Homo sapiens: one gene and its partner. The protein of the gene in region 1 purifies or fractionates together with the protein of each later gene. This does not show direct contact. Each region holds a gene or a part of one and is shown in the gene's direction. Other genes may lie near its edges.

Region 1 (3,460 bases):
TATTGCATTCTGTCCTCACTGTCTTGAGGATCTTCCTCCCCGGCTCATCACTCCCCATGGGCAGCTGCCAGGGTAGGCGCTGTCACCTTCTGTTGACAACAGTCAGTAGCTCCTAAGGACTAAAACTGTTCAGCCCAGCATTCAGCTCTTTGGAGGAGTCCATCTGTCCCCCAGCACATCCAGGAGTAAGGATTCCGACTGGTCCACTCCTCATCCTGGTGTCTTCAGCTTCTCTGCTGCCATGTTCTTTGCTGGGATGGCTGCTTCCCAACTCCACCTCCAGAATCAAGGATATTCCTCCAAGCCCAGCTCGAATGCTTGATCTGCCTGGAGCCTTCCTGGTCATCCTTGGGTGACCTGGAGCTGGTGCTGTTAGAGCACTTCTGCTCTGCCCTGATGTGCAGTTGTTGTGAATGGGCCACTCCATAGTTTATCCTTCCTCACACCCCTGGGGCATAGTACCCTATTCAAGTTTGTCCAATGAGTGCATGGGTGAATTAATGAATGAATGAACAAATGAGTCTTTGCCCTAGACAACTTAAGGTCCTCACTCTGCATTAGGAGCCTCCATTTTTCTCCAGATGGTTGAAATAACCAGCCTCTGAAGGAGCCAATGGTTTGGTCACTGCTCTCTCAGCAAATTACAGTCACTGTCACTTAGCATGGAGAGTGGACGTTGCACATCACTGTGAAACCTTGCAGAGGAGGAGAGGGCAGGTTCATCAGAAGAAAGAAAGGACAAAATGACTCCTTATGAAGCATTTTGTGCCTTCTGTGAGAAAACATGTATTTAGATCAGATAAACTCTAGTCAAAATACAAAAAGGAAAAATGAAAGACCTCTGAAATAGGAACAATCTCTTGAAGAGGCAAATGACTCAAAACTGCTCAGTGGCTCTTTCAGAAAATCTAAGTAAAGTTCCCTGACAACAGAAACTGAAGAGATTGCCTGGTTCATCTTGTAGTCTTCCAAAACAGCAGATAATTTCTGAATCTCAGATGTTGAATCAGTGCAACGGGATGGATTTCTTGTTCCTAAGTGTTAAATGATCACATACATAAAAGAGTCTGAGCCTGAGCAACATAATGAGACCCTGTCTCTACAAAAAAAAAAAAAAGATTAGCCAGGCGTGGTGGTGCACACTGATAGTCCCAGCTACTCAGGAGGCTGAGGGAGGCGGATCACTTGAGCTAGAGAGTTCAAAGCTGCAGTGAGCCATGTTTGTGCCACTGCACTCCAGCCTGGGCAACAAAGTGAGACCCTGTCTGGAAAAAAAAAAAAAAAAAGCGTCTGCATAATTCCTGGTGCATTTTGTGGATATACAATATGAGTATGTGTTCCATGTTTTCAGAAATTCAAAGGAAGCGTTTCCACAATATGTGACGGTTTATTTCCCAAGAGATGAAAAGATTCATTAAGGTGCATGCTTTGATTTAACATCTGCAAACATTTAAAAAATATAACAGTGTGTGACGTAGCAGTGAGAGTACTATCTTTTTTTAAAAAGGGAAATTAAGATTTATTTCTGGCCAATGTGAACAGAAATAAGTCACTTTATCTCACTGAGCACCAATTTTACACGTGGAAAATAGAAGAATTGGACCAAATCAGCAGTTTCAAGCTGAGTTGCAAAAGTTCATGGAACCATTTCAGTCGCTTCATGGAATCGGGGTAGGCATGAGGCCCGTTGTTCTTTCAACCTGAGCCGCATGGCTCTTGTGTCTTTAAACCTTGTGGTAGGATTTTTTTTTTTTTCTGCTTTAATAAGTGAAGGGTCAGGGCACCAGTTGGTGTCTGAGATGCCCTCCAGTCTGGGGAACCCCGTAGATGCTTAGACTACTTTGAACTGAAGTATGTGCAGTCTGCCATCTCACATTAAAATGTAGGCATTTTGTCAATTGCTTTTCTTTCATCTGCACAAGAGGAAGGAGAGAACGAATCAATACAACCACTCTTTTCCTTGAGACTGCAAAGAAAATGGTTCTATAGTTTGATGGTTCTACTTCCCAGATGCTACCTCTCAGATTTATTCTCAACAGAAAATTTTTTGATTACAGCAGACCAGATCTTTATCTGTCAATAAGTTAAAAAAGATAATCTGGGCTGGATGTGGTGGCTCACTCCTGTAATTCCAGCACTTCGGGAGGCCAAGACAGGAGGATTGCTTGAGCCCAGGAATTTGAGACCAGCCTGGGCAACATGGCGAAACCCCACCTCTACAAAAAAATACAAAAAAATTATTTGGGACTGGTGGCGCATGCCTGTGGTCCCAGCTACTCGGGAGGCTGAGGTGGGAAGATCATTTGAGCCCAGGAGGTTGAGGCTGCAGTGAGCTATGATCTTGCCACTGCACTCCAGCCTGGGTGACAGAGTGAGACCTTGCCTCAAAAAGAAAAAAATAAAGAAAAGAAAATCTGAAAGGGAAAGCAGGCATCAACTTCCAGGGATCTAATAACTTCCTAACTTAAAGCAACAGAACTTACCTAACTTTTGGACTTTTCATTTTAAAACTTTGCCTCTAGCAGTGGACACTGTCCTCAACACAGCTACAGTTTATGTAACACAGAGTCCATATTATATGGGGCATGTCTGTATCAAAATGTCATATGTAGAAATAAAGTATTAAATATTAAGGTGTGGCATAATTATCTGACTTTAAAAATCATCATTTAGTGGCCGGGCATGGTGGCTCACGCCTGTAATCCCAGCACTTTGGGAGGCCAAGGCGGGCAGATCACCTGAGGTCAGGAGTTTGAGACCAGCGTGGCCAACACAGTGAAACCTTGTCTCTACTAAAAATACAAAAAATTAGCCGGGTGTGATGGTGGGTGCCTGTAATCCCAGCTACTTGGGGGACTGGGGCAGAAGAATTGCTTGAACCTGGGAGGCAGAGGTTGCAGTGAGCCGAGATCGGGCCACTGCACTCCAGCCTGGGTGACAGAACGACACTCTGTCTCAAACAAATAAGTTAATTAAATTAAATAAAAATCATCATTTAAAAATCTATTCCTGGCCAGGTGCAGTGGCTAATGCCTGTAATCCCAGCACTTCGGGTGTCTGAGGTGGGTGGATCACCTGAGGTCGGGAGTTCGAGACCAGCCTGACCAACATGGAGAAACACTGTCTCTACTAAAAACACAAAATTAGCTGGCATGGTGGCACATGATTGTAATTCCAGCTACTTGGGAGGCTGAGACAGGAGAATCGCTTGAACCTGGGAGGCAGAGGTTGCGGTGAGCCATTGCACTCCAGCCTAGGCAACAAGAGCAAAACTCCATTTCAAATATATTCCTTTTTATATGCATGACACCTAATGCAAACAAAACAAATATACAATTTTTTATTAACAAATAAATGTTACAGCATGTAAGATTAATCAGCTGGACCTGGTGGTCCACATCTGTAGTCCCAGCTGCTGTGGAATCTGAGGAGGGAGGATGACTCGGGCCCAGTAATTAAT
Region 2 (3,827 bases), on another chromosome or scaffold:
TCTGTTATCTCCAAAGGATTGGTAAGATGTTTGTTCCCATTATAACTTAAATACATAGTTATGTCAACAAATAACAGCTGTTGACTTCACTATATATGTATCTGCATATATTTTAATCTGTAGGAGCTGCTGGAGAATAGTTTATTGAGAATAGAAGACAATAGTCTACTTTACCAGTACTTAGAAATCAAGAGTTTTCTTACTGTACCTCAGGTAAATAAAATATGTATTCTAATATTGAAAATAGCCCTTTGCCTGTTCTGAACTTAAAGTAAGGTCTTTTCTGATTCCTTTCCCACTCTTTTCTCTGCAACCTTTGAAAACTCTGGTGTAATGCTGTCCAGTAGAACTTTGACAATATGAAAGCCACTAGCCAAACTGAACACTTGAAATGTGACTAAGGAACTATTTTTTTTTTTTTTGAGGTGTAGTCTTGCTGTGTCGCCCAGGTTGGAGTGCAGTGGTGCTATCTCAGCTCACTGCAAGCTCCACCTCCTGGGTTCATTCCATTCTCCTGCCTCAGCCTCCCGAGTAGCTGGGACTACAGGCGCCCGCCACCACACCCAGCTAATATTTTTGTATTTATAGTAGAGACGGAGTTTCACTGTGTTAGCCAGGATGGTCTCGATCTCCTGACTTCGTGATCAGCCTGCCTCAGCCCCCCAAAGTGCTGGGATTACAGGTGTGAGCCACCACACCCAGCCGGAACTAAGTTTCAAATTTAAATTTTAATTTATTTAAACACGAATAGCTATTAGAGGCCACCATTATTGATAGCACAGCATCCAGTAGAAAAGCATAACTTTCTTCTTTTAACACTTTATTTCTGTAGGGATCTTGGAAAATGAAGCTTCTTTATGTTTCTCATAACTCAAGTTCTCAGGACTCCATCTAAGGCATCCACTGACTCATTACCAGAAAGACTAATACACATTGTGTTTTTCCCTCCTATGGTTTATTTTGCCCAATCCTCTTTGTTAGTTATGATATCCAAGGAAATCCTTAGATTTCAGTGTGGGAACTGGTTTTCCTAATATTTAAATAGAAAAACATGGTTTTTGTTAACATATTGTTTGATTGTTTTTAATTAATAAATTATATTTCTGTAGATTTGATTTCATTTTCTTGCCACTGTAGACATAATTGAAAATTATCGTTTGCTTTTAAAAGTACACTGTGTGACACTCTACTCAATATCACTTAAAAAATCAATTGTAGTTAGCTTTCTGGAATGGAAGGCTTAGGGAAAAATTAATTTACTTCACTTTTAAATCTCCTACCCTCACTTCTCTGAATTTTTAGTATCCTATTGATGTATTATAGTTGTTTGTTTGCAGTCAGTATAATCTGTTTACATCTGAATTTTACATTTTTTTATTTCCAGGGCTTAGTGAAAGTAATGACACTTTGCCCCATTGAGACACTGGTATGTAAATATTTGGTGACTAAAGAATAATGAGTTACAGTGAGAAAATTTGACAAATAATTTAATTTTCTTTTTAAAAATTTTAATTTGTGAAATTTTTATTTAGGAGGTACAAGTGTGGATGTATTACATGCATAAAATGGATAGTGATGAAGTCTGGGTAAGCTTTATTCATTTTATATAATAATATTGTTTGTTCCATTTTAGAGGAAAAAGAGTTTAGCTATGCTTCAGCTGTATATTAACAAGTTGGATTCACAAGGCAAATATACATTATTTAGGTATGTATCAAGCATGGCTAATTGCTAAGTGTGTGGTTGATTAAAAGTCATGTTAATGCCATGTAATTGTTTTAGGGCATAGTATGTCGGTATGTTTTACATGTAATTCAACTCTGGTTGGAACCCATATTATAAATTCTCAGTGATGGCTAGAGAAAGGGTTAATCAAATATTTCAGACATACTATATATATGTCTATATTTTGTATGACTAATAGTATATATTGCAGTTCAATCAATTGGAATACTCTAAATTTGAAATAGACTTAAAAATAATTAAACTGAGATTGATGATGCTCCTGCTGGAACTTTATGTATGTCACTAATCTCCATTACTCACAGTTCAAATTGATGGCTCTGGAATTACAACTTTGATAGGCTATGCACTATGTTAATAGTAAGAGCTTACTAATACTGCTCTTTGAGGTGGATAAGATTCTAGCAACTCTCTAAGTTAAAGATTGGTAAACTTTCTAATTAATTTTCTGTGAAGAGCCAAATAGTAAATATAGGTTTTATGGGCTATACAGTCTCTGTTGCAAGTGCTCAACTTTGACTTTGTATTGGGGATGGGTGTGTTCCAGTAAAACTTTATTGATAAAATTGGGCATCAGGCTGGATTTGCTAAAATGTCTTACCTGGGATTGGCCAATATTAGTACTGTTCTTTTTTGGCGGGTGCAGCAGTGTGATCATGGCTCACTGCAGCCTTCACCCTTGGCCCCCCAGCTTCAGGTGATCCTCCCGCTTCAGCCTCCCAGGTAGCTGGGACTACAGGTGCATGCCATCATGCCCAGCTAATTTTTTTGTGGAGATGGGGTTTTGCCATGTTGCCCAGGCTGGTCTCAAACTCCTGGGCTCAAGCGATTCACCCACCTCAGCCTCCCAAAGTGTTGAGATGACACGCATGAGCCATCATGCCCAGCCAACACTCTTGATTCTATCTTTTCTTGTTTTCTATTGATAGTAAGAGCAAGTTTATGAAATCTCAATTCTTAGGTATTATACCGGCTTTCCTGTTCTGTTCTATGTGTATCTCTACCAATAAATCCCCTTTTTTTCTTAAGCTAGTCATATCTAGTTTTTTTTTTTTTTTTGCAATTAAGCTACTCTAGCACTGGACTACTTTCACAGGAAATAATTTGGGGATTTTTTAGACCATTATGTTAGTGCCCTTTCTTGCCATGTTAAATTATTGTAACTATGTTCATAAAAATATTCAAATTTTGGTTTGATAGAAATGGCTTGTTGGAAGATCCAGTTATAAATAAGTATTTACCGGCCGGGTGTGGTGGCTCATGCCTGTAATCCCAGCACTTTGGGAGGCTGAGGCAGGCGGATCACGAGGTCAGGAGTTTGAGACAAGCCTGGCCAACATGGTGAAACCCTGTTTCTACTACAAATACAAAAAATTAGCCAGGCACGGTGGCGGGCGCCTGTAATCACAGCTACTCAGGAGGCTGAGGCAGGAGAATCGCTTGAACCCGGGAGGCGGAGGTTGCAGTGAGCCAAAATTGTGCCACTGCACTCCAGCCTGGGCGACAGGGCGAGACTCTGTCTAAAAAAGTAAAATAAAATAAATAAGAATTTACCATTTAGTGAGAGCAATAACTATTACAGGTGACTTTGTAATTGGTTGATGACCTTGCTAATTACCATTACTGTGGGGTTTTTATTCCTAGAAGTAACACATGGCCTCTTTGAATTTGTAAAACTTTTATCACCATTTAATTCTAATGCTGTCCAGGATAATTTCACATCTATTGTAATTTTGCTTTCAAGGTGCTTATTGAATACAAGTAATCACTCAGGTGTGGAGGCTTTTATTATTCAAAATATCAAAAATCAAATTGACATGTCATTAAAGGTAAGAACATAGCCAAAGTGTCAATTACCAATTTATTTCGTAGGGTATATTTATTCATATGTAGAATACATTAATGTGAGTTATTGCTCTATCTCTAGTATTACTATTACTTAAATATTATTAAGGCATATTTTTTCCCCTATTTCTACTATGTTTTAAAAACTCTGAATTTGGAAATTTAGTTAACTATAAGTTTAAATTGTATTCTTTGAGGTTTTGGTTTTTGTTTTTGTTTTTTTTGAGACAGGGTTTCAC

What was found.
Region 2: the proteins of TMEM213 (region 1) and GLMN purify together in Homo sapiens (affinity purification with mass spectrometry; 2 studies listed by BioGRID and IntAct, with this or other methods). This does not show direct contact.

The regions. Positions count from the first base shown.
Region 1 is NC_000007.14:138,804,127-138,807,586, forward strand, and holds the end of TMEM213 (transmembrane protein 213 precursor), read left to right. Parts: 3' UTR 1-2,633; downstream 2,634-3,460.
Region 2 is NC_000001.11:92,264,299-92,268,125, reverse strand, and holds part of GLMN (glomulin), read left to right. Parts: coding exon 1-21; intron 22-123; coding exon 124-213; intron 214-1,384; coding exon 1,385-1,426; intron 1,427-1,532; coding exon of another isoform or gene 1,533-1,586; intron 1,587-1,633; coding exon 1,634-1,707; intron 1,708-3,487; coding exon 3,488-3,572; intron 3,573-3,827.